Linked DNA regions of Homo sapiens: regions 1 and 2 are each linked to region 3. The links come from fine-mapping of genetic effects on gene expression. A gene starts in region 3. Each other region holds a variant in brackets. All regions are shown on one strand. Distances are from middle to middle. Region 1 overlaps TRPC1 (transient receptor potential cation channel subfamily C member 1). Region 2 overlaps ATR (ATR checkpoint kinase). Region 3 holds the start of ATR (ATR checkpoint kinase).

Evidence for each region. PIP is the estimated chance that this variant, and not a neighbour inherited with it, causes the effect.
Region 1: its variant is fine-mapped to the expression of ATR in whole blood (INTERVAL, PIP above 0.99).
Region 2: its variant is fine-mapped to the expression of ATR in whole blood (TOPMed, PIP 0.94).

The regions. Positions count from the first base shown.
Region 1 is chr3:142,758,536-142,766,722 of GRCh38, reverse strand. The region is part of intron 4 of TRPC1 (transient receptor potential cation channel subfamily C member 1); the gene reads right to left. Among named protein-coding and RNA genes, the nearest start is that of TRPC1, 39 kb to the right of the region's middle. The variant T/AT (reference allele first, on the strand shown) is at 4,295.
Region 2 is chr3:142,487,903-142,496,089 of GRCh38, reverse strand. It overlaps ATR (ATR checkpoint kinase), which reads left to right. Exons shown (of 47, transcript NM_001184.4): 35 at 2,779-2,958. Among named protein-coding and RNA genes, the nearest start is that of XRN1, 44 kb to the right of the region's middle. The variant CT/T (reference allele first, on the strand shown) is at 4,928.
Region 3 is chr3:142,574,014-142,582,171 of GRCh38, reverse strand. ATR (ATR checkpoint kinase) reads left to right here and starts at 3,439. Exons shown (of 47, transcript NM_001184.4): 1 at 3,439-3,526. The coding sequence starts at 3,468. It also overlaps the pseudogene RPL6P9. RefSeq lists enhancers at 3,089-3,188, 3,489-3,648.

The sequences.
Region 1 (8,187 bases), 180 kb before region 3:
CAGTGTTTGAGGGCATCCAGCATGGGGGAAAATGTAGGCTGGGGCCAGGCATGGTAGCTCACACCTGTAATCCCAGCACTTTGGGAGGCCGAGGTGGGTGAATCACCTGAGATCAGGAGTTTGAGACCAGCCTGGCCATACTAAAAATACAAAAATTAGCCAGGCATGGTGGTACATGCCTGTAGTCCTATCTACCCAGGAGGATGAGGCAGGAAGATGGCTTGAACCCAGGATGTGGAAGTTGCAGTGAGCTGAGATCGCAACACTACACTCCAGTCTGGGTGACACAGTGAGACTCCATCTCAAAAAAAAAGAAAAAAAAAAAAAAGATGTAGGCTGGGAGGCTAGGCCAGTCTCTTTTCACATTTTTCTGCCTGCTTATATTCTAGCCACACTGGCAGCTTATTAGATTGTGCCCACCCAGATTAAGGGTGGGTCTGCCTTTCCCAGTCCACTGACTCAAATGTTAATCTCCTTTGGCAACACCCTCACAGACACACCCAGGATCAATACTTTGTACCCTTCAATCCAATCGAGTTGACATTCAGTATTAACCATCACATAGTAATTGATTTTAAAACTTACTATAAAGCGATAGTAATCAGTACAGAGTTATATTGATGTAAATATAGACACATAAGCGTTCCTTTTTCTCCATAACCTTGCCAGCATCTGTTTTTTTTTTTACTTCTTAATAGACATTCTGACTGGTATGAGATGGCATCTCATTGTAGATTTGATTTGCATTTCCCTAATGATCAGTGATATTGAGCCTTTTTTTCATATGCTTGTTGGCCACATGTATGTCTTCTTTTGAAAAGTGTTCATGTCCTTTGCCCACTTTTTAATGGGGTTATTTAAGTTCTTTATAGGTTGTGGATATTAGGTCTTTGTCAGATGCATACTTTGCAGATATTTTCTCTCATTCTATAGATCATCTGTTTATTCCCTTTATAGTTTCTTTTGTTGTGTAGAAGCTCTTCAGTTTAATTAGGTCCCACTTGTCAATTTTTGTTTTTGTTGAAATTACTTTTGAGGACTTTAATCCACCTTGAGTTAATTTTTTTATATGGTGATAGGTAGGGGTCCAGTTTCATTCTTCTGCATCTGGATAGCCAGTTATTCTAAGACTATTTATTGAACAGGAAGCCTTTTTCCTCATTGCTTATTTTTGTTTACTTTGTCAAAGATCACATGGTGGGGGTGCAGCTTTATTTCTGGATTCTCTATTCTGTTCCATCGGTCTATATGTCTGTTTTTGTGTTGTACCATGTTGTTTTGGTTACAGTAGCCTTGTGGTATAGTTTGAAGTCAGGTAATGTGATGACTCTGACTTTGTTCTTTTTGCTTAAGATTGCTTTAACTTTTCAGTCCTTTTTTGGTTCCATATGAATTTTAAAATAGTTTTTTCTAAGTCTGTGAAAAATGATGTTGGTAGTTTGACGAGAATAGCATTGAATCTGTAAATTGCTTTGGGTAGTATGGCCATTTTAACACTATTAATTCTTCCTATCCATGAGCATGGACTGTTTCTCCATTTGTTTGTATTGTCTCTGATTTTCTTCAGTAATGTTTTGTAGTTCTCATTGTAGAGATTTTTTTTTACCTCCTGAGTTAGCTGTATTCTTACATATTTTATTCTTTTTGCAGCTATTGTAAATGGGACTGCATTCTTGATTTGGCCCTCAGCTTGAACAATGTTGATGTATAGAAATTCTGCTTGAAGATCAGCTGTTTGAAAATACACATTCAGCGGAGAAAAAAGACAAAAGAACAAAAAGGAACAAAGACTGCCTATAAGATATAAAAGAGTACCTCAAAAGACCAAATGTAAGAATTCCTGTGTTTAAGAGGGAGCAGAGCAAGAACAAGGGATAAATAACTTATTCAAAGAAATAACAACAGAAAACTTTCCAAAACTTGAGAAAGATATAAATATCCACGTACAGGAAGGTCTTAGACCACCAAACAGATTCAATCTATACAAGACATATAATAATCAAACTCACAAAGGTCAATGACAAAGAGAATACCCTAAAATCAGCTACAGAAAAGAAGCAAATAACATATAAAGAAGCCCCAATTCATCTGGAAACAGACTTCTCAATGAAACCATGCAGGCAGAAGGGAGTGGAATGGCATTTTCAAAGTGCCCAAAGGGAAAAAAAAGCCCTGCCATCCAAGTGTTTTGTATCCAGAAAAAATTGTTATTTAAATAAGAAGTAGAGATAAAGTCTTTCCCAGACAAATGAAAGCTGAGACAATTCATCACTACCAGATCCACCTTGCAAAAAATGCTAAATGGAGTTCTTCAATCTGGAAGAAAATACAAAATACCAGTGTGCAAAGAAAAAATGTTCAAGGTATAAAAACCATTGGTAAAATTAAGTATACAGACAAACACAGAATAATCTATTACTGTATCTGTGGTGTACAATCCATTCATATCTCTAGTGTGAAGCCTCCAAGACAAGTTTATCAAAAACAATAATAACTATAGCAACCTGTTAAGAAATAGGTAATATAAAAATATATCAGTTGACAACTAAAAGTGAAAATGAAATAGGTAATATAAAAATATATCAGTTGACAACTAAAAGTGAAAATGTTGGGAGAAGAAGCTAAAGTGTAGAATTTTTTTTTGCCTTTGTTTCCATTCTTTTGTCTGTGATCTAAAATAAGTGTCATCTCTTTAAAATAATTTGTTATATATATATATATATGTATGTATGTATGTGTATATATATATATATATATATATATTTCTTTTTTTTGAGACGGAGTCTCGCTCTATTGCCCAGGCTGGACTGCAATAATTTGTTATATTTATAAGATGTTTTTTGCAAGAATCATGGTAATGATAGTATGAAACCTATAATATATTCACTAAAAATAAACATCAATAAATTAAAATATACTACCAGAGATAATCACTTAACTACAAAGGAAGACAATAAGAAACAAAAAAAGGAAAAGAGAATTCTCAAAACAAGGAGAAAACAAGCAATAAAATGGTTGCAGTAAGTCCATACTTATTTACAATCACACTGAATGTAAATGGTCTCAATTGTCCAATTAAGAAGCATAGTGTGGCTTAATGGATAAAGAAATAAGACCCAACTATATGCTGCCTTCAAGGAATCCATTTCACTTATAAAGATACACATAGACTGAGACTGAAAGATATTCCACGTAACTGAAAACTAAAAAAGATCAGGAGTATCTATTCTTATATCAGATAAAATAGACTACAAATCAAAGACTAAAAAAAGACAAAGAGGGTCACTATATAATGATAAAGGTGGCAATTCAGCAAGAAGATATAACAATTATGAATATCTATGAACCCAACACTGGAGCCCCCAAGTATATAAAGTTAATGCTTGCTTTATATACATGAAGGCTCCAGTGTTAGGTTCATAGATAAACTACAATACAATAATAGTAGGGGACTTTAACATGCCACTCTAGTAATAGACAAATCATCTAGACAGAAAATCAACAAAGAAAGAGTAAAATTAAACTACGCACTAGATCTAATAGGCCTAACTGACATTTATAGAACATTTCACCCTATTGCTACAGAATATACATTCTTTTCACCAGCACATGAAACATTTTCCAGAACAGACCATATCTTAGGCTACAAAACAAGTCTAAACAAATTCAGAAAAATACAAATCACAAGTATCTTTTCTGACCATATGGAATAAAACTAGAAATCAATAATAAAAGGAATTTGGAAAATACACAGACACATGGAAATTAAGTAACATACTCTTCAATCACCAATGGGTCAATGAAGAAATTAAGAAGAAAATTTAAAAATTTATTGAAACAAATGAACATGGGAATATAACATACCAAAATCTATGAGACAGAGCAAAAGTAGTACTGAGAGGGAAGGTTATAGCAATAAATTCCCATATTAGAAAAGTAGAAAGAGTTCAAATAATCTAATGATGCACCTTGAAGAACTAGAAAATCAAGAATAGGCTGGGCACGGTGGCTCATGCCTGTAATCCCAGCACTTTGGGAGGCCACGATAGGAGGATCACTTGAGGTCAGGAGTTTGAGAGCAGTCTGGCCAACATGGTGAAACCCCATTTCTACTAAAAATACAAAAATTAGCCAGGCATGGTGGCAGACACCTGTAGTCCCAGCTACTCGGGAGGCTGAGGTGGGAGAATTGCTTCAACCCGGGAGGTGGAGGTTGCAGTGGCCGAGATCACGCCATTGCACTCCAGCCTGGGTGACAAAGCGAGACTCCGTCAAAAAAAAAAAAAAAAAAAAA[T/AT]CAAGAATAAACCAAACCGAAAATTAGCAGAAGAAGAGAAATAAAGATCGAAGCAGAAATAAATGAAATTGGAATTTAAAAAAATACAGAAGAGGCCAGGCACGGTGGCTCATACCTGTAATCCTAGCACTTTGGGAGGCCAAGGCAGGCAGATCACTTGAGTCCAGGAGTTCAAGACCAGCCTGGGCAACATGGTGAAACCCCATCTCTACAAAAAATGCAATAATTAGTCAGATGTGGTGGCACGTGCCTATAGTCCCAGCTACTTGAAGGGCTGAGGTGGGAGGATCACTTGAGCATAGGAGGTCAAGGCTGCGGTGAGCTGTGATCACGCCACTGTACTCCAGACTGGGTGACAGAGTGAGACTCTGTCTCAAAAAACCAAAAACAAAAACCACAGAAGATCAATGAAATGAAAAACTGATTTTTTGAAAAGATAAACAAAATCAACAAACCTTAGCTAGACTAAGAAAGAGAGATCCAAATAAAAAAATAAGAAATGAAAAAGGAGATATAACTGAAACCTTAGAAATACAAAGAATCATTAAATAATATTATAAACTACTATATGCAAAACTAATTGAAAAACCTAGAAAAAATGGTTAGATTCCTGGACACAGACAACCTACCATGATTGAGCCATGAAGAAATAGAAAACCTCAACAAACCAATCATAAGTAACAAGATCAAAGCCATAATAAAAAGTTTCCCATCAAAGAAGTGCCCAAGACCTGATGGATTCACTGCTGTATACTACCAAACATTTCAAGAAAACTAATACCAACCTTACTCAAACTCTTCAAAAATACTGAAAAGGAGGGAATGCTTCCAAACTCATCCAAAGAGGCCAGCATTACCCTGATACCAAAACCATACAAGGAACCAACAAAAAAAGAAAACTACAGGCCAATACACTTTGATATATTGATATAATATGAACATAGATGCAAAAATCCAGCAAACTGAATTCAACAACACATTAAAAAGATCACTTGTCATGATCAAGTGGGATTCATCCCAGAGATGCAAGAATGATTCAACATATATGTATCAATAGACATGATACATGACATTAACAGAATCAAGAACAAAAACCATATGATTATTTCAATGGATGCCAGAAAAGCATTCAATAAAATTCAACATCCCTTTATAACAACAACAACAACCAAAAAAACCCTCATCAAAACAGGTATAGGAGGGACATACTTCAAAATAATAAAAGCCAACAGGGAAAAATTGAAGGCCTTTCCTCTAAAGACTGGAACAAGATGATGATGCCCACTTTCCCACTATTATTCAACATAATATTGGAAGTCCTGGCCACAGCAATTAAGCAAGACAAAGAGATAAAGAGTATCCAAATTGGAAAGGAAGAAGTCATATTAGCCTTGTTCTCAGATGACATGATCTTACATCAAAAAAACCCTAAATACTCCACCAAAAAACTATTAGAAGTGGTAAAAAAAATTCAGTAAAGTTGCAGGATACAAAAATCAACATACAAATGTCAATAACATTTATATATGTCAAAGAACAATCTGAAAAAGAAATCAAAAAAGCAATCCCATTTACAATGGTTACAAAAAACAAAACAAAACAAAACAAACTAGGAATCAATCTAACCAAAGAAGTGAAAGATCTAGGCAAGGAAGACCATAAAACTCTGATGAAAAAAATAGAAGAGGTCACCAAAAAATGGAAAGGTATTCCATGCTCACGTACTGGAAGAATTAATGTTGTTAAAATGACAACACTACCCAAAGCAATTTTGAGATTCCATGCAATCCTTATCAAAATACCAACGACATTCTTCAGAGAAATAGAAAAAATAATACTAAACTTTATATGAAACCACAAAAGACTCCAAATAGCAAAGTAATCCTAAGCAAAAAGAACAAAGCTGGAAGCATCACATTACCTGACTTCAAAATACACTACACAGCTATAGTAACCCAAACAGCATGGTACTGGCATAAATATAGACACATAGACCAATGGAACATAATACAGACCCACATATAAGTCCATGCATTTATGACCAACTCATCTTTGACAAAGGTGCCGAGAACATATTTTGGGGAAAGGATAGTCTTTTTAATAAATGCTGCTGGGAAAGCTGGATTAACTATGTGGAAGAATGAAATGAAACTAGACCCCAATCTCTCACAATACACAAAAATTAAATCAAAACTGATTAAAAACTTAAATATACAACCTCAAATTAAACATTGGGGAAACTCTTCAGGACACTGGTCTGGGCCAATTTTTTTTTGTGTGTAAGGCCTCAAAAGCACAGACAAGGCCGGGCACAGTGGCTCACGCCTGTAATCCCAACACTTTGGGAGGCCGAGGTGGGTGGATCATGAGGTCAGGAGATCGAGACCATCCTGGCTAACACAGCGAAACCCCATCTCCACTAAAAAAATACAAAAAAATTAGCCGGGCGTGGAGGCTGGGGCAGGAGAATGGCATGAACCCAGGAGGCGGAGCTTGCAGTGAGCCGAGATCGCGCCACTGCACTCCAGCCTGGGCAACAGAGCAAGACTCCCTTCCTTACACCTTATACAAAAATTAATTCAAGATGGATTTAAAGACTTAAATGTTAGACCTAAAACCATAAAAACCCTAGAAGAAAACCTAGGCAATACCATTCAGGACATAGGCATGGGCAGGGACTTCATGACTAAAACACCAAAAGCAACGGCAACAAAAGCCAAAATTGACAAATGGGATCTAATTAAACTAAAGAGCTTCTGCACAGCAAAAGAAACTACAACCTACAGAATGGGAAAAGTGAAAAGGCAACCTACAGAATGGGAGAAAATTTTTACAATCTACCCATCTGACAAAGGGCTAATATCCAGAATCTACAAAGAACTTAAACAAATTTACAAGAAAAAATCAACCCCATCAAAAAGTGGGCAAAGGATATGAACAGACACTTCTCAAAAGAAGACATTTATGCACCCAACAGACACATGAAAAAATGCTCATCATGACTGGTCATCAGAGAAATGCAAATCAAAACCACAGTAAGATACCATCTCACACCAGTTAGAATGGCGATCATTAAAAAGTCAGGAAACAACAGATGCTGGAGAGGATGTAGAGAAACAGGAATACTTTTACACTGTTGGTGGGACTGTAAACTAGTTCAACCATTGTGAAAGACAGTGTGGTGATTTCTCAAGGATCTAGAACTAGAAATACCATTTGACCCAGCCATCCCATTACTGGGTATATACCCAAAGGATTATAAAACATGCTGCTATAAAGACACATGCACACTTATGTTTATTGTGGCATTATTCACAATAGCAAAGACTTGGAACCAACCCAGATGTCCATCAATAATAGACTGGATAAAAAAAATGTGGCACATATACACCATGGAATACTATGCAGCCATAAAAAAGGATGAGTTCATGTCCTTTGTAGGGACATGGATGAAGCTGGAAACCATCATTCTGAGCAAACTATCGCAAGGACAGAAAACCAAACACTGCATGTTCTCACTCATTGGTGGGAATTGAACAATGAGAACACTTGGACACAAGGTGGGGAACATCACACACCAGGGCCTATTGTGGGGTGGGGGAGGGGGGAGGGATAGCATTAGAGATATACCTAATGTAAATGACAAGTTAACCGGTGCAGCACACCAACATGGCACATGTATACCTATGTAACAAACCTGCACGACATGCACATGTACCCTAGAACTTAAAGTATAATTGAAAAAAAAGAAAAAAAAAGTACAGACAACCAAAGCAAAAATAGACAATTGAGATTACAGTAAGCTAAAACACTTCCACAAAACAAACAAAAGAGCCAACTCATAGAATGGGAGACTATATTTGCAAACTATCCATCTGACAAGAGATTAATAA
Region 2 (8,187 bases), 86 kb after region 3:
ATCTATCTTACATTTTCCTTGAGGAAAACGACCTCTTAATTTTTCACCTTATGTATGTATACAGGGTGTATATAGTAGTGACCCAGTAAATGTTGGTTAAATGAATGTAACTCTGTCACTTAGTTGCTGGCAGATAATTAGCTCTCTGTAGACTTGCCAGTGTTACTGTAAATATTCAGCTCTGATCTAGCCAGAAAGGGCCTAGCATCTGAACAGAAGTTCACGGCAGACCTCAGATTAAAGCCAAAGTAATAAGAAGGGGGTTTTTTAAACATTGGAACTACTTGCAAGGTTTATGACCCAGATTTATTTTTTATTTTTATTTATTTATTTATTTATTTATTTTGAACCGGAGTCTCACTCTGTTGCCCAGGCTGGAGTGCAGTGGCACGATCTCCGCTCACTACAACCTCTGCCTCCCGAGTTCAAGTGATTCTCCTGCCTCAGCCTCCTGAGTAGCTGGGACTACGGGTGTGTGCCACCACACCTGGCTAATTTTTTGTATTTTTAGTAGAGATGGGGTTTCACCGTGTTAGCCAGGGTGGTCTCGATCTCCTGACCTCATGATCCACCTGCCTCAGCCACCCAAAGTGCTGGGATTACAGGCGTGAGCCACCGCGCCTGGCCAATAACCCAGATTTAATGGCTATTACTTAAATTTCTCCTCAGGCTAGTCACCAGTTTAGAATTAGTAATAGGCATTACTAATAATAATAGCATGTTCTGGAATTGATACTTAGCAACTATTGTTGGTGCCATTTGTGGTTACACCAACTTGTGGTGGCTGAGAAAGGACAGGAGAGGTTTCCTGGATGAGAGGGGAAAGCAATTTATTCAGTGTGCATTAGTCAGTACCTGGTCATTTTATTGAGCTAGTGGTAGTCTATGTATTATAATACCTTAAACTCAAAATGTTCAAAATGCAATTTATTACCTAATACTCAATATCTGTTTCTCCTCTCATGTTTCCTACTTCTCTGAACAAGACTTTATTCCATCCTTCCATCAAAAACAGAAATCTGGACATCATCTTAAATTCCTTCTGCAACCTCACTTTTCACATCCAGCTGGAGACTAAATCTTTGTTCTTCAACCTTAGAAATATCTCTTGAATCCTCTCCCTCTTATTTATTTCCACTGCTTTAACTTATGACTTTATTATTTACTTCCTCTAACAATATTAACAACCATTTTAGGATCTCACCATTTCCCTGTATACGTTATTGCAGTTTGTGATCTTTCTAAAATCCACATCGAATCATGTTGCTCCTTCAAAAAGATTAAATCTTACAAAGTATTCTTCATACCTTTAGGATTAAGCCTAACTCTAGGAACTACACAAATCCCTTTCTGATCAAGTCCTGGCCTACTTCCTCAGTGTCATTCATCACCATCTCAAAAACCCTTTAAACTTCAGCTAAAATCAGACTATGTGCTTTTCTTCCAATTAAAATTATTATTCCATCTACCTAGAATGCCTTTCACTAAATTCTCTGCCAAGAAGATTTCTACTCATTCTTGAAAACCTAATTCAAATTTTCTTCGTTGATAACTTTTCCTGACTGTAGTTCTCCTCCATTTTCCTATATTCTTCAGGTAGGTTTAAGGGACTCTCTTCTCTATCCTGTATAATGCTGATGTATATTCCTCTGTTGTAACACTTAGCAAATATGCTTTTATTTCACATAGTTTCTTTTCTCATGTGACTATGAACTTTTTTTATGTCAGGGATTTTAATTTGTTTGTGATTGTCTTCAATTCCCTGAACTTTGATTATAGTCCTTTCTTGATATCCATGGAGGGATTGGTCCCAGGATTCTCTATGGATAACAAAATCTGTGGATACTCAAGTCCTTTATATAAAGTGGCATACACAGTATTTGCATATAACCTGCGGACATCCTCTTGTATACTTCTCTAGGCTACTTATAATACCTAATACAGTGCAAATGCTTTGTAAACAGTTGTTATACTTGTATTGCTTATTCATATTATTTTTAATTTTTTCTTTGTAATATTTCTTTTTTTTTTTAATTTAAATTTTTATGTTTTGAGAGAGACAGAGTCTTGCTCTGTTGCCCAGGCTGGAGTGCAGTGGCATGATCATAGCTCACTGATGCCTTGGACTCCTGCTCTCAAGCAATCCTCCCACCTCACCCTGAACTTTGTATCAAAGGCTATAAGCATAAGCCATCATGCCTAGCTTTCTTTTTTTTTTTTTAAGAGAGAGGATCTTGCTCTGTCACCCAGGCTGGAGAGCAGTGGTGTGTCATAGCTCACTGTAACTGCGAATTCCTGGGCTCAAGCGATCCTTCCCCCTCAGCCTCCCGAGTAGCTGGAATTATAGGCATGAGCCACTACACCTGGGTAATTTTTAAATTTTTTGTAGAGACAGGATCTTGCTATGTTGCCCAGGCTAGTATCAAACTCCTGGCCCCAAGCAGTCCCCCTGCCTTGGCATCCAAAAGCACTGGAATTGCAGAGATGAGCCACTGTGCCCAGCCATTCCTAATATTTTCTATCCACTGTTGGTTGAATCCATTGATGTGGAACCTGTGGCTACAGAGAGCCAACTGCAGTTATAAAATTAATTAGTAAATGAATGAATGAGATGAAGCAATGTTTCAGTTTTAGAATTTTACTTTAATAAGAGGCAAGTAAAAGATAAACATGAAATTACAAATGGATTTGTACAAAAACATAATGAACTAATACTTTTGCAGAAAATAGAAGTATGTTTTTAAATTAAAAGGCTTATTGTTGCCTTTTTTCTTTTAGGGTGATGTTCACCAGGCACTAATTGTTCTTCAAAAAGGTGTTGAATTATGTTTTCCTGAAAATGAAACCCCACCTGAGGGTAAGAACATGTTAATCCATGGTCGAGCTATGCTACTAGTGGGCCGATTTATGGAAGAAACAGCTAACTTTGAAAGCAATGCAATTATGAAAAAATATAAGGCAAGTATATGTATAATGCAGTTTCAGTTAACTCTGTTGACTACGTAAAATGACTTAAGTCTATATGGCAAAGCACATGTATAAAAATAACCAGGAAATTTTTTTGACTTTTCAGTGAGTATATAAGTATATGGATTATCACAAAATAAATATACTCATGAAACTGCCACCACATCAAGAAATAGAATATTATTTGAGCTCTATAACCCCACTACCCTTCATCCCAGTAATCACTATTCTCACCCTCTGTCTCAAAGTTAACTACATCCTAGCCTGAAAATTTTTCAGCAAAACCAATTTATAACTTCTTTACTAGGTATTAAACTTTATATAGATGGTGTTGTAAGAGATATACCTCTCAATAATCCATGGGTCAATGAAAACTTTCAATGGAAATTGAAAAGTACTTTGAACTGAATGATAATAAAAATGGCATATCATATCCTGTGCAGCTAAAGCCATTCTTAAAAGGGATTTAAATTTTTATTTGCATATATTCGAAGAAAATAAAGGTTCAAAATTAACGAGTTAAGTATCTATCCCAAAGAGTTAGAAAAGGAACTAAAAAAGTAGGGAGAGAAATAAAAAAGTAGAAGAAAGGAAATAATAAAGCAAAGAGCAGGTGGCTAGAATTTGTGGGACAGATTAACTGAGAGAAAAAAGTTAAACAGAGTAGTTCCTATCTGCATAGGAATTGTGTTCGCTGAATACCAGCCTGCACATGAATAATTCAGAATTCTATGAGGCCAAGCTAGGAATAACTGCTGGGGAAAGAATAAACATGCAGAGGCTATAAGAACAATTTCCAGAGCTCACACGGGATTGAGATTCATTCAGATTACAGGATTGAGAGTTATTCAGTCCACCAGCCAGATTAAGAGGCCTCATTGCATAATATGGAGCATTCAGTAAAGACCTTAAAAGGGCCACACCTTAGAAGTAGGACTAAATTAGTCCTAGGCTAAAAACTACTCTATATCCATACTAGAAGGGCAGTAAAACAAGCTTTAAGATGATTACACTGATCTTCAAGTAACCTTACTGCCTGCCAGATCAAAGCCTAACACTCTTTAAAGCAAGACAACAAAATCTAAAACTTGACAATGTAAAAATATATCCAGCATCCATTAAAAAATTACTCTGTGAATGAAGAAGCAGGAATATTTGAGCCACAGATAGGAAAAAAAATAAATCAGTAGAAATAGTTCTAGAAATGACAGGATTTAAAAACAGCTATTGTATATAGGCTCCATAAGTTTAAGAACATAAACAAAAATAAGAGCATGATGAGAAGAGAGAGAAATCAAAGATACAAGAAAGACCTAAATGGGACCAACAGCCAAAGCAAATGGCACAGACAGTGCTAATCTTTAGATCCAGGAAGTGTTGCATTCTGATGAAGATAAATAGGAGTCCAGCTCCTGTTCCTTGGTTACAAGAAGATGTCATGCCACCTAAGAAACTAACCTTGATTTGCATTAAAAACTATATTATCCTAAAGGGCAGTGATAATGAGGCAAGTTCTGAAACCATACTTGTAAGTTTCACCTTCCCAGTTAGAGAGATCTTCTGAATTTATTCTAGTATGTAAGACACAACAACTTATGAGGCACACAAAAACTCACCAGTACTTAACAGCAGAATTTGATAGCAAATATTCCAGTTCTCCCATCTCTGCCTGGGTACTAAAGCCAGGGTTAGGGAAGAGAGATGTTGTCAGACTACCAACTTTTCAGGTTCTGTTTCTTCTGCATACACCCCTAATTTCCTGTCATAAAGGCCTCAGTAGCTGCTTCTCTTGTTCTGGTTGCCTATACATGATGTAGACAGAAATGAGTAGAGAAAAGAATAGAGGCTGACTACTGTAGAATGACATGCAGATCCAAGGGGCCACATATTGCATGATTCCACTTACATGAAATGGCCAGAATAAGCAAATCCATAGAGACAGAAGGTAGATTAATGGGTA[CT/T]AGAGACTGAGGTTGGGGCTGGGAAGTGACTGCTAATTGGTACAATTTTTTTTTTGGAGTGATGAAAATGTTCTGGAATTAAATAGTGGTGATGGTTACACAACTCTGTAAATATACTAACAACAACTTTAAAAGTGTGAACTTTATAATATATTAATTATATCCCAATAGAGCTGTCATTTTAAAATATTACCCAAATGGCAATCTTTAAATAAAAAAAGAAGTAAAAGATACAAGGACTAGGAAAAAAATATAGGAAAGTTATTAATTGCAGATGATATGAATACATATGTAGAAAATTCAAAAGATTATAAACTATTCAAAATATTGAGTGAATTAAACAAGATTGCCTGATGATTTTATTTCTATATGACAACAAGAAAGGAATTTAAAACATACCATTTACAAGCAGAAAGTACTTGAACAGTTGGATATCTGTATGAGGAAAAAAATGATCTTCAACCTCTGCCTCATATGATAGACAAAATTGCTTCAAAAAAGTAGATTATAGATCTAAACTGAAAAGCTAAAATTATGAATTTTTAGATGAAAAAATAGAAGAAAATCTTTACAACCTTAGGGTAGGCAAAGGTTTTCTTAGGTCACACAAAGCATTAAGCATTTAAAAAATCCTGATAAATTAGATGTTCATCAAAGTTAAAACCTTTTCTAAGAAAGACAGTTAAGAAAATGAAAAGGTAAGCCATAGACTTGGAGAAAATACTTGTAATACATATATGACAGAGGATTTGTAGCTAAATTATAGAGAACCCTACAACTTAGTAAGACAATTTAAAGATCTGTGAGGCTAGGCACAGTGGCTCAGGCCTGTAATCCCGGTGCTTTGGGAGGCCGAGGCCTGAGGATCACTTGAAGCTAGGAGTTCAAAACCAGCCTGGGCAATATAGTGAGAACCTGTCTCTGCAAAAATAAAAATTAGCCAGGTATGGTGACGAATGCCTATAGTTTTAGCTATTCGGGAGGCTAAAGCAGGAGGATCACTTGAGCCTAGGAGTTCAAGGTTACAGTTAGCTATGATTGCACCACTGCATTCCAGCCTGAGTTACAGAGTGAAACTTTGTCTATTAAAAGAAAAAAAATACAGATCTGCAAAAGTCTTGGATAGACACTTCATAAAGAATACACGCAAATGGCCAAAAAGCAAATGAAAAGATGCTTAACATCATTAGTCATTAGGAAGATGCAAATTAAAACCACAATGAAATAACACATTACACACTAAAATGGCTAAAGTCTGAAAGACTAGCAATACCTATTAATGCAATAAATGCACCTGGTGGGGACTATAAAAAGTTAAATCTACCATATTCCATTCCATTCTTAGGTGTTTATCCAACAGAAACAATTACATATGTCAATAAAAAGACTTGTACACAAATGTTTATAGTAGGTTTAGTCACAAAAACTGGAAATAGGCCAGCTGGCCATCCAGAGAAGAATGGGTAAACAAACTGGTACAGTTGTATAATGGAATACTACCCTACAGTAAGAAGAAATGAACTACTGATACACGCAACAAGGTAGATTAATGTCATAGATATGCTGAATGAAAGAAGAGGGACATAAAAGACTATATGCTTATATGATTTCATTTATGTGACATTTTAGAACAGGTATAATTAATGTATATGCATAGAAATTATATCAGTATTTGCCTGGGTAGTTGGCAGGAGAGTGACGGCAAGGGTGGGCGCCCATAAGAACTTTCGAGAGTTAGGAATGTTCATCTTCTTGACTGGAATGATGGTTCCATGGGTGTATATGTCTTAAGAAAGTTGATTTAAAATTTTACTTTATTTTATTTTTGAGACAGGGTCTTGGTCTGTCAACCCAGGCTGGAGTATAGTGGCATGATTACAGCTCACTGCAGCCTCAACCTCCTGGGCTCAAGTGATCCTCCCACCTCAGCCTCTCAAGTAGCTGGGACTACAGGCACATGCCACCACACCCAGCTAATTTTTTATTTTGTGGAGATAGGGTCTTGCTGTTCTGCCAAGGCTGGTCTCAAACTCCCTGGCCTCTACTGATCCTCCCACCTCTGCCTCCCAAAGTGCTGGGATTATAGTTGTGAGCCACCATGTATGCCCAGCCTAAAATTTTTAAAGATATCATTTAGGATAGCAATAAAAATGATGAAATGCCTAGGATTAAATTGCACACAAGACCTCTCCACAAAATAAAAATTAAAACATTAAAATTGAGTGAAGTAAAAAAGAACTAAATAAATTGGTAGCTAGAATACATGTATGAATGGGAAGACTCAATAATATAATTATTTCTCTACAAACTGACCTAGAGGTTTAATGCATTACTCATCAAATGCTAACAGGTAATTGACAATTAGAATTTAAAACTTATGTGGAAACATAAAGGCCAAGAATAACCAAGAAGCTTCTCTGTCACCTTTCATTTTTTCAGTTTTAATTTGAAATAATCTTTGACTTCTAAAAAGTTAGTAGTAGTATAGGGAATTTCCATATCTACCCTTTACCGTGTTTCCACTAATTTTAATATCTTACACTACCAGAGTATCAGAAGTGGGAAATTAATATTGATAAACAATACTGTTAACTATCTGTAGACCACATTTCACCAGTTTTCCCAATAGTGTTCTTCTTCTGTCTAGAATTAAGGATTCCATATAGCATTAGTTGTCATATCTCCTTAGTGACCTCCAATCTATCTGAGATGCTCTTTACTGTATCGTGTGAGGTCAGGTGCAGGGAGAAAATAGTTGGCCCAATCAAAAGAGGTAATTGGGGAGAGTTTAATGAAAAACTAGATTAAGGGAAATTAACAAAGGATGGTGAAAGTACCCCATGGCTAGCAACAACAGAGAGTCGTTGCTAACTCTAGACCTGAAGGAGCAAAAGGATAGGGCATTTACTGGAACCTGTACAGGGAGCTAAATTTGTAGGAAAGGACCATTGGACCAGAACTTAACCTTAGGGAAAGAAACACCACCACTGTCAACTGCAGCCCAGCAGGAAGGAAACGAGCAGGTATAAAGACCTTAACCTCACTCTCCCCCTCACCCTCTAATCTATTGCTACCTTCCATTGATTGAACTTCACAGGAAGCCAGAGGGCAAACAGGCCCATTGATATAAATCATCAATTTCAGTTTGCTGGGGCACTGAGCAGAGTGGAAAAGGCTAAAGTTGGCAAGTGTATCTATCTGGAGGGGCAAACTGTGAATAACCAAAATAGTCTTTTCAATAAATGTTGTTGTATCACTT
Region 3 (8,158 bases):
CTCCTGCCTCAGCCTCCCCAGCAGCTGGGATTACAGATGCCCGCCACCACGCCAGGCTAATTTTTGTATTTTTAGTAGAGATGGGGTTTCACCATGTTGGCAGGCTGGTGTCGAACTCCTGACCTCAAGTGATCCACCCGCCTCAGGCTCCCAAAGTGCTGGGGTAACAGGAGTGAGCTAGCGTGCTTGGCCACGAGTCCACAGCTTTCTGATCAACCTTGCATTGCTCCATAATCTTCTATTACTCTCTTTCTGTGTTGACGATGTCACTTTCCCAGTATTTGGGCTTCCATAGCATCATCTTCTTAAGCAAGCATTGGTAAGATGTTTTGGAATTTTCACATTGCTGATTTCAATTTTGTGATGACCTCTGGTGTGTTTCCCACAGAATGTGAATGAGGACCAGAGGTCCAGTCACAATTAACAAGCCACTCCTCAGCTGCTCCAGTAAAACCACCCTCTTGCCTTTGTGGTGCCCAGTGAGGATAAGCAGAATGATCCCAGGAGAGAAGCTAGTTTGCAGTTTTCTCTGTGCTGACTGAAGTGTTTCTGTTTGTTTTTTCTGTGGCTCAACAGCAGCTTTCCAGGCACATCTTTGGAAGGATCTAGGCATTTTGTAGGGTTTACTTTGCAAAAAGTATCACCATTCTTGTTGCCACCAACTGGTTTTGTAGCAATGGCAAGAACCTTTTCCTTTTTCAAGTCTGGACTTTCTTCTTTTTAATTCTGGATTTAGTACCCGAGTACTTCCTCTTGTACCTGGCCTTTTTGACATAGCAGATTGAGAATATCTGCCAATTCCTCTGATAAGGACAGGATTTCCGCTGCAGGGGGGCTTCCCTTTCTTTGGCTTTTTAGCCTTGAGGTGTTTTTGTTTGTGTTTTTTGACGGAGTTTCGCTCTTGTTGCCCAAGCTGGAATGCAATGATGCAATCTCGGCTCACTGCAACCTCCGCCTCTCGGGGTCAAGCGATTCTCCTGCCTCAGCCTTCCGAATAGCTGAGATTACGGGCGCCCACCAGCACACCCAGCTAATTTTTTGTATTTTTAGTAGAAATGGAGTTTCACCATGTTAGCCAGGCTGGTCTTGAATTCCTGACCTCAGGTGATCCGCCTGCCTCAGCCTCCCAAAGTGCTGGGATTACAGGCGTGAGCCACCGTGCCCAACCGAAGTTATGTTTTAACCTTGCCACTAGCATCAGCCTTCTTGGCTTCACGTTTCTTCTCCTTGGTGTCTGGCTTCTCAACTTTTTCCCCCACCATCTTACAAGACGGGAAGGAGCTATTTTTTTTAATACATGTTGGAATATCCTGGCTATGCAGATACAAATAGTAATATAACATCCACCCAAATATAACATTAAATTTTGATTAAATAATAATTAATTCAAATCCTACTAAAAGAAAACCCTTAGGGATACATTGAAGCTTCATCATTTCATTCCCTTCTCTCCCTTCCACAGGTGCAACTATCCTGGAGTTGATATCTATCTTTGCCAAACATGTTTTCATACTTTTATCAAACATATTTGTATACATAACTCACACAACGCATTGTTTTGTGGTTTTAAGATTGTATATAAATGATATGACACTATTATGTATACCTTTGAATTTGCTTTTTCAATCAATGTAGTTTTCAGGATTCATCGTTGGTATAGGTAGTATAATTCATTCATTTTAACTATGAAATTATATTCCACTTTATGACTTTACCCCCTCTTATTTAATCTTTGCTGTAATCTTGTGAGGTAGACATTATTAATCCCATTTTATAAATGAAAAAATGGAAGTATTAAGAGATTAAGTAACTTTACTGAGGTCATATAGTTTCTAGCAGATGGAATGAGAACTTGTGTAGGGCCTGTAACTCCCAATCCCATGTCCTTTCTCCTAAAACATTCAGTGATTCATTCAACAAATGTTTACTGAACACCACCTATGTGCCAGGCACAGTTTTAGGTCCTGGGTATCTGAGAGTGAACAAAATAGACAAGACCTTGCTCTCCAAGAGCTTACACTCTAACTGGAGAGAGACAATAATATAGTATGTCCGGGTGTGGTGGCTCTCACCTCTAATTCTAGTACTTTGGAAGGCTGAGGTGGGAGGAGCGTGTGAGGCCAAGAGTTTGAGACCAGCCTGGGCAACATAGCAAGACCTTGTCTCTACAAAAAATAATTAGCCAGGCGTGGTGGCATGTCTGTAGTCCCAGCTACTCAGGAGGCTGAGGCAGGAGGATCAATTGAGCCCAGGCTGAGGTGAGAGGATCGCTTGAGCCTGGGAGATTGAGGCTGCAGTGAGCTATGATTGCAACATTCATTGCACTAGAACCTGAACAACAGAGTAAGACAATGTATCTAACAAAAAAAAGAGGGTGAGACAGAATGTGTATATATGTTAGTCTATATGAGGCTCTTTGGTGTTAATTTGGCAAACACCTGAAGGAAAAAGGGCAATGACAGAGTGGTGTTCAAGGCAGAGAGTACAGCAAATGCAAAGTTCTTGAGGCAAGAGCATATTTGGCTGTCATTCCATCACTTTTTTCTTTAAGATACTGTATCGGTTAACTATCCTCATGTACCAAAGAACAAATGTAAACATACTGCATGACTTTGAGTGATTAACTACATAACTTTGACATGTCAACAATCTCTTATGGTGGTCATCTTTCCAATAAATTGAGTTGAGCTAGAAAATGTGTATTGCCAAAATCCATTGATTTACTTTAAAAATTAAATCACAGGTTGCGGATGCCCGTAATGGTGGCATTTCCACACACAGTACTGTTGCTGATTTGATGAGACACAAATATATTCCAACCCCATTTTCAAATATTAAAAGTTGGTAGGGTCCTCAACGAAACCTAACAGTGACTTCAAGTTGAAAAAAAATGCTTAAAAGGAAAAAAACAGGGAGAGCCCACCTTTTGGCCTGTATCTCTCAGAAAGAGGGACAAGAGCGGTGGGAACGTGAGGAACTTTTAAAATGTGAGAGCGTTACTCTGGGGAAACCTGGAGTTTACTCTTGGCCTTTACTCGCTGGACTGTCATAGTTCTCACATTTGTGAAGCGAGTCTGGGCTGGCGGCCCTCAAGCCCTATCCTCCCCCGATGCGGAAGTCTTGCTTCTCTGTGCCTCCCAGGCTTGAGAACAGCAGAGTCTGGCCGCTCAAAACGAAAGCTTCACGAACGTCGCTCGCTCGGTGCTGAGAAAGAAGCCTGACGCGACCCGGGAAACTTGACCGACGCACGCCCGCCCGCTTGCCCCGCCCCCTAACGGCTTCCCGGCTTCCCCCGGGTCCTATGCAGAAAAGACGCTGGGCCTGGCAAGCGGGGCCAGTAGCGGCTTCCGGGAGGAGTTTTGGCCTCCACACGGCTCCGTCGGGCGCCGCGCTCTTCCGGCAGCGGTAGCTTTGGAGACGCCGGGAACCCGCGTTGGCGTGGTTGACTAGTGCCTCGCAGCCTCAGCATGGGGGAACATGGCCTGGAGCTGGCTTCCATGATCCCCGCCCTGCGGGAGCTGGGCAGGTAGGGCTAGGCCCAGCCTGGGTCCTGCATCCTCCTCCGCTGATTCCGGCTTGGGTTTCACGTGCTCTCCCCTCCCCTGCTGCGCTATGGCTGGGATCCCCTAAGCCCCCGCTGCGGCCCTTGTGGAGATGCTCCGTGGCTGATTTGGGCGCTTCTCCCTCAGAGTGCCCGTTGATAGCACATGGGGCAGTCGCCACAAACCTGCGGGAAGCCGGTCCGTGGGGGAGAGAGGCGTCTGCCGGCCCTGGTTTACCACTCACCCCGATCGAGAGTTTGCTTCCTGCAGCTGGAGGAAGAGTCCCTGCTGATCGCTTTCTGGTCACTTTTCTACACTCATTTTCTTCTCGAAAATCTTTTTCCTTAGACGAGGGACTTGACCCATCAGTTTCTGTTCTTTGTGATCACTCGTGGAGGAATTGGTTTTTAGCCTTACATTTTGTCCCCAAACTGCCCTTGAAAGAAAATCACCGCTTCTCATTTTCTGCAAGTGACATCACTTGCTGGAAAAGGCAGTTTTTTTCTTTGAAGTGAAGTCATAGTACATACTGAAGATGTGACCTCCCTCGTATTGATCGTCCAGTTCCCGATCCGTTATTTTAGTCAGAAATTGGAGAGATAGACCCCTGGGTCCACAAAATCTCAGCGTGCACAGAGTGTTGCCAAAATTTGGAGACAATTTAATATTTCATTTGCAAATGCATGTTGTCTGTAAACCTCATGAAAACCAGTATCTTACCACAAGGAGGGAGAGGTGTTGATGGCTCTCACACCTCTTCAATACACAGGCAGGCTTCCCTGAACCAGGCCTAAAGACTCGGTAGAGCTTGTTTTGCTTTGTTTGTTTTAATTCTACACTACTGCGAACAAGAAATAAATAAGCTTGTGCTGCTACCGCAGTTAAATTATCATTTGGAATAACTGCTTCCCAATTTCTTAAACTGTTTGAAAACTTTCCACACAAAGTCAAAGCTGACATTAAGCCAATGGGATAGCTACTTCTCTTTCTTTTTGCAGCGCAGTTGTGTTCATTTCCACTGGTTGGCCATCCAAATAATCTAGTCTCAATATATGAATAAAAGGATAAATGAAGGGACCATTCTTGTCGTAACTGCATCACTATTTTTGAGTGTGTGAATTTTTTCCACTTATCTGTGGCAAGTATACTTTGTGTTTAGTTTATAAAATAACCTCTACCTCTCTAAAAGAAGAGGAAGAAAAGTGATCATTGTAGGAAGTTGGTTTACAAATTTCATCTTTCAGGCTCATTGTGAAGCTGAGTATATTTTTGCCACTTTGCTTTAAAGTAGAATTAACTGGTTAATACTTCTCTTCCCTCTTCTGTCTTCCTCCGTGAGTCCTGTTAATAAAAATAATTGGTTCTTGGATTATATATAGTCGGTTTCATCAGTAGAGTTTATGTTACCTTTCATTTATTTGTAGCTATTCCAAGAGAAAGAATAGAAAAACTGACCCACAGAGAGTTGTCTAATAGTTTTTAATTGTCATGGCTTTTTCATTACAACTACTTGAATCAAAAAAGCTAATCAATTTTCATAGTATATCCATGACATAGAATGAAACAAGTGTTACCACTGTTTAAGAAAAAGGGACAGAGAAGTTGAAGAACCAAAGGCACAGCTAGCAGATAACAGAGCTAGGTTTCAGATTCAAGCTTTCAAGGCCTTTTCTTCCAAAATGTTTCCTCTTAATTGACTATGGCAATTAGACTACTGAAAAAAAAAGATATTAGTGTTCTAATTTATGGGCTGCTCTTCCTCAGTCCCTCAGATAAATTTTGTCCTATTGTTTTTTTGCTATTAGCAGTCTGCTCTGCATAATCTTGCTAAATGACCTTTCCACTCTCCTGCCTTCAACTATAATCTGCTATTTGATGACTACTAATATGTTTCTCCAAATCATGTCTTCTATAGAATTGTATATTTACTGTATACTGGTAGTTTCACTGAGTGTCCTATGTGTAGTTAAGGTTCAGAATATCCAATACAAATTCCCCACATGTCCTAGCTTTCACAAGCTTTCTTTTTTTAAATTAAAAAAATTATTTTTCTCTTATTCATTGAAGTAGAGATATCTCAGTACATGGCACCATATTCACTTAGTTCTCCAAACTGGAAATCTAGAAGTCATTCTTAACTATTTTCACATGTGCTTTCAGTCTATGTCCTTGGCCCTCTTTTAATCTGTGCTGTCTTCCCAAGTAATCTTACCTAATCTCATGGCTTTAAATGTCATCCATATGCTGATAACTCCCAAATTTATATTTCTAGATCGGAGATATATATTAGGTTGCTTACTCAACATCCACACTGGGAAGTGAAAATTAACATATCCAAAGCAGAACGCCTGATTTACTGCGCCCTTGAATTTGTTCCTTCTCCTGTGTTATCGTAAATATGCCAACCAAAAGCCTAGGAGTCATCCTTGGTTTTTTTCCCTTGTCGCTTAATAATCCATAAGTTAGTTCTGACAACCATATGTTTAAGATACATCTAGAATCTAACACTTCTCACTGTCTCCACTGCTACCACCAGAATTTCTTACCTGAACTATTACAGTAACCTTAGTTGATCTTTCCATTTCTACTTTTACCTACTTATAATAGATTTTCCACTCAGTAAAGTGATTTTTCATCTATTAGTCATATTGTAAGTTCCCCTGCACAAAACCGTCCTTTGACATTCCAGCACACTTAAAATCAGTATAAAATCCAAACTCCTTACCAAGGCCTCTAAGGTTCTACATAATCTGGCTCAGCCTGCCTCTGACTTCATCACCTTTTATCCCTCTTTTGCTTACTTTACTCTAGTGATACTGACCTTGTTTCTCCAGGATACCAAGGCTGTTCCTGCCTTTAATCGTTTGCTGTTCCTTCTATCTGAACACTGGATGGTTTCATTTAGATGTCATTTCAGAATCACCTTCTCTGATTTTCCTACTTGAGATTGCTTTGTAGTTGTAAGACATTTTCAAATGTGATAGTTGCTATTAAAATGTTAAATGGAACAGTGGGATGTGGAGGAGGTTCTGAGGAGCAGCAGCATTAGCCACTAGAGGAGATTTGATGGTGTAAAGAAGCTAGTCACGTGAATCTGGGATGGAATAGGAAGTACAAAGGCCCATAAGTGGGAATGAGCCTGCTTTTTTTTTTTTTTTTTTGAGACGGAGTCTCGCCCTCTCCAGTGGCGTGATCTCTGCTCACTGCAACCTCTGCCTCCCGGGTTCAAGCGATTTTCCTGTCTCAGCCTCCCTTTCCTGTAGCTGGGACTACAGGCTTGCACCACCGAGCTAATTTTTATATTGTTAGTGAAGATGGGGTTTTACCATGTTGCACAGGTTGTCTCCAACTCCTGACCTCAAGTGATGCACCCACCTCAGCCACCATGCCAAGGCTGAATGAGCCTACTTTTAAAAGGATAGTAAGAAGGCTGGAGCACAGGGAGTAAAGAGGGGAGTGGTATGAGTTAAACAGGGAGGGGTAGGCAAGGGCCACATCCTTCAGCACCTTGGAGGCTAGAAAAAGGAGTGAGATTTTATTGTGTGATGGGAAACCATTGGAATCTTTTAAACAGGGAAATAAGCAAGTTTTTTAAAACTTGCTTAATTTTTACTTCCTTAAAATCCTTCAGTGCTTACACATTGCCTTCAGTGTAAAATCCAAACTACTTAGCCAGTCCTTTGAAATTTAACCTTATCTTCCCTCTTCAGCTGCATCTCTAAAGGCTTTAGCCACATAGAGCCTCTTACAGTTTCCAGTGCTTGGACTACCCTCCCTCTTACCCTTATTTCACTGCCTTGTCCCTTAGGGAGTCAGTTTTGTATCACCTCGTTAAGGAAGCCATGACTGACAGGGCCCTGCTCAGGGCTGAGTGTCCCTTTGTGTTCTTTCTTGGGCCTGTCAGTTCTTAACCATAATTACCTCTTGTTTGTCCTTTAATCTGCAAATTATTTTAGGGCAGGTGCATTCTGTCTTGGTTATCCTGGTATTTGATGCTTACCTCAGAGGAGGTGCCTAAGCTTTATATAATACTTACATTAATACTCAAATTTTATAGTATGCTTTTGAAAAGTTATACCCTCTTAGCTCAGTTCCAGGGTAGAAGTCACAAAATAAGAAGTGCTCACTCCTGTGAGTTTTCTTTCTTTTTTCTTTTTTTTTTTTTTTTTTTGAGACTGGCTCACCTGTTGCTCAGGCTGGAGTTCAATAGCATGAACATGTCTCACTGCAACCTCTGCCTCCTGGGGTCAAGCGATCCTCCCACCTCAGCCTCCCAAGTAGCTGGGACTACAGGTGTGTGCCACCATGCCTGGCTAATTTTTGTATTTTTGTAGACGGGGTTTCACCATGTTGCCCAGGCTGGTCTCAAACTCCTGGGCTCAAGTGATCCGCCCACCTCAGCCTCCCAAAGTGCTGGGATTACAGACATGAGCCACCACGCCCGGCCAAGTTTCTTTCTTCTGATAGTAGATCTAATGAATGGTAATCAATTTACATTTTTCTAAAACTGATTTTTAAAAATTACACAAATAATACATGAGTACATAATCTTTACAAAATGAAACTTTGTAAGAAACTCTGACCACTACCCACAATCCTGGCTCCTCTTCCCATGT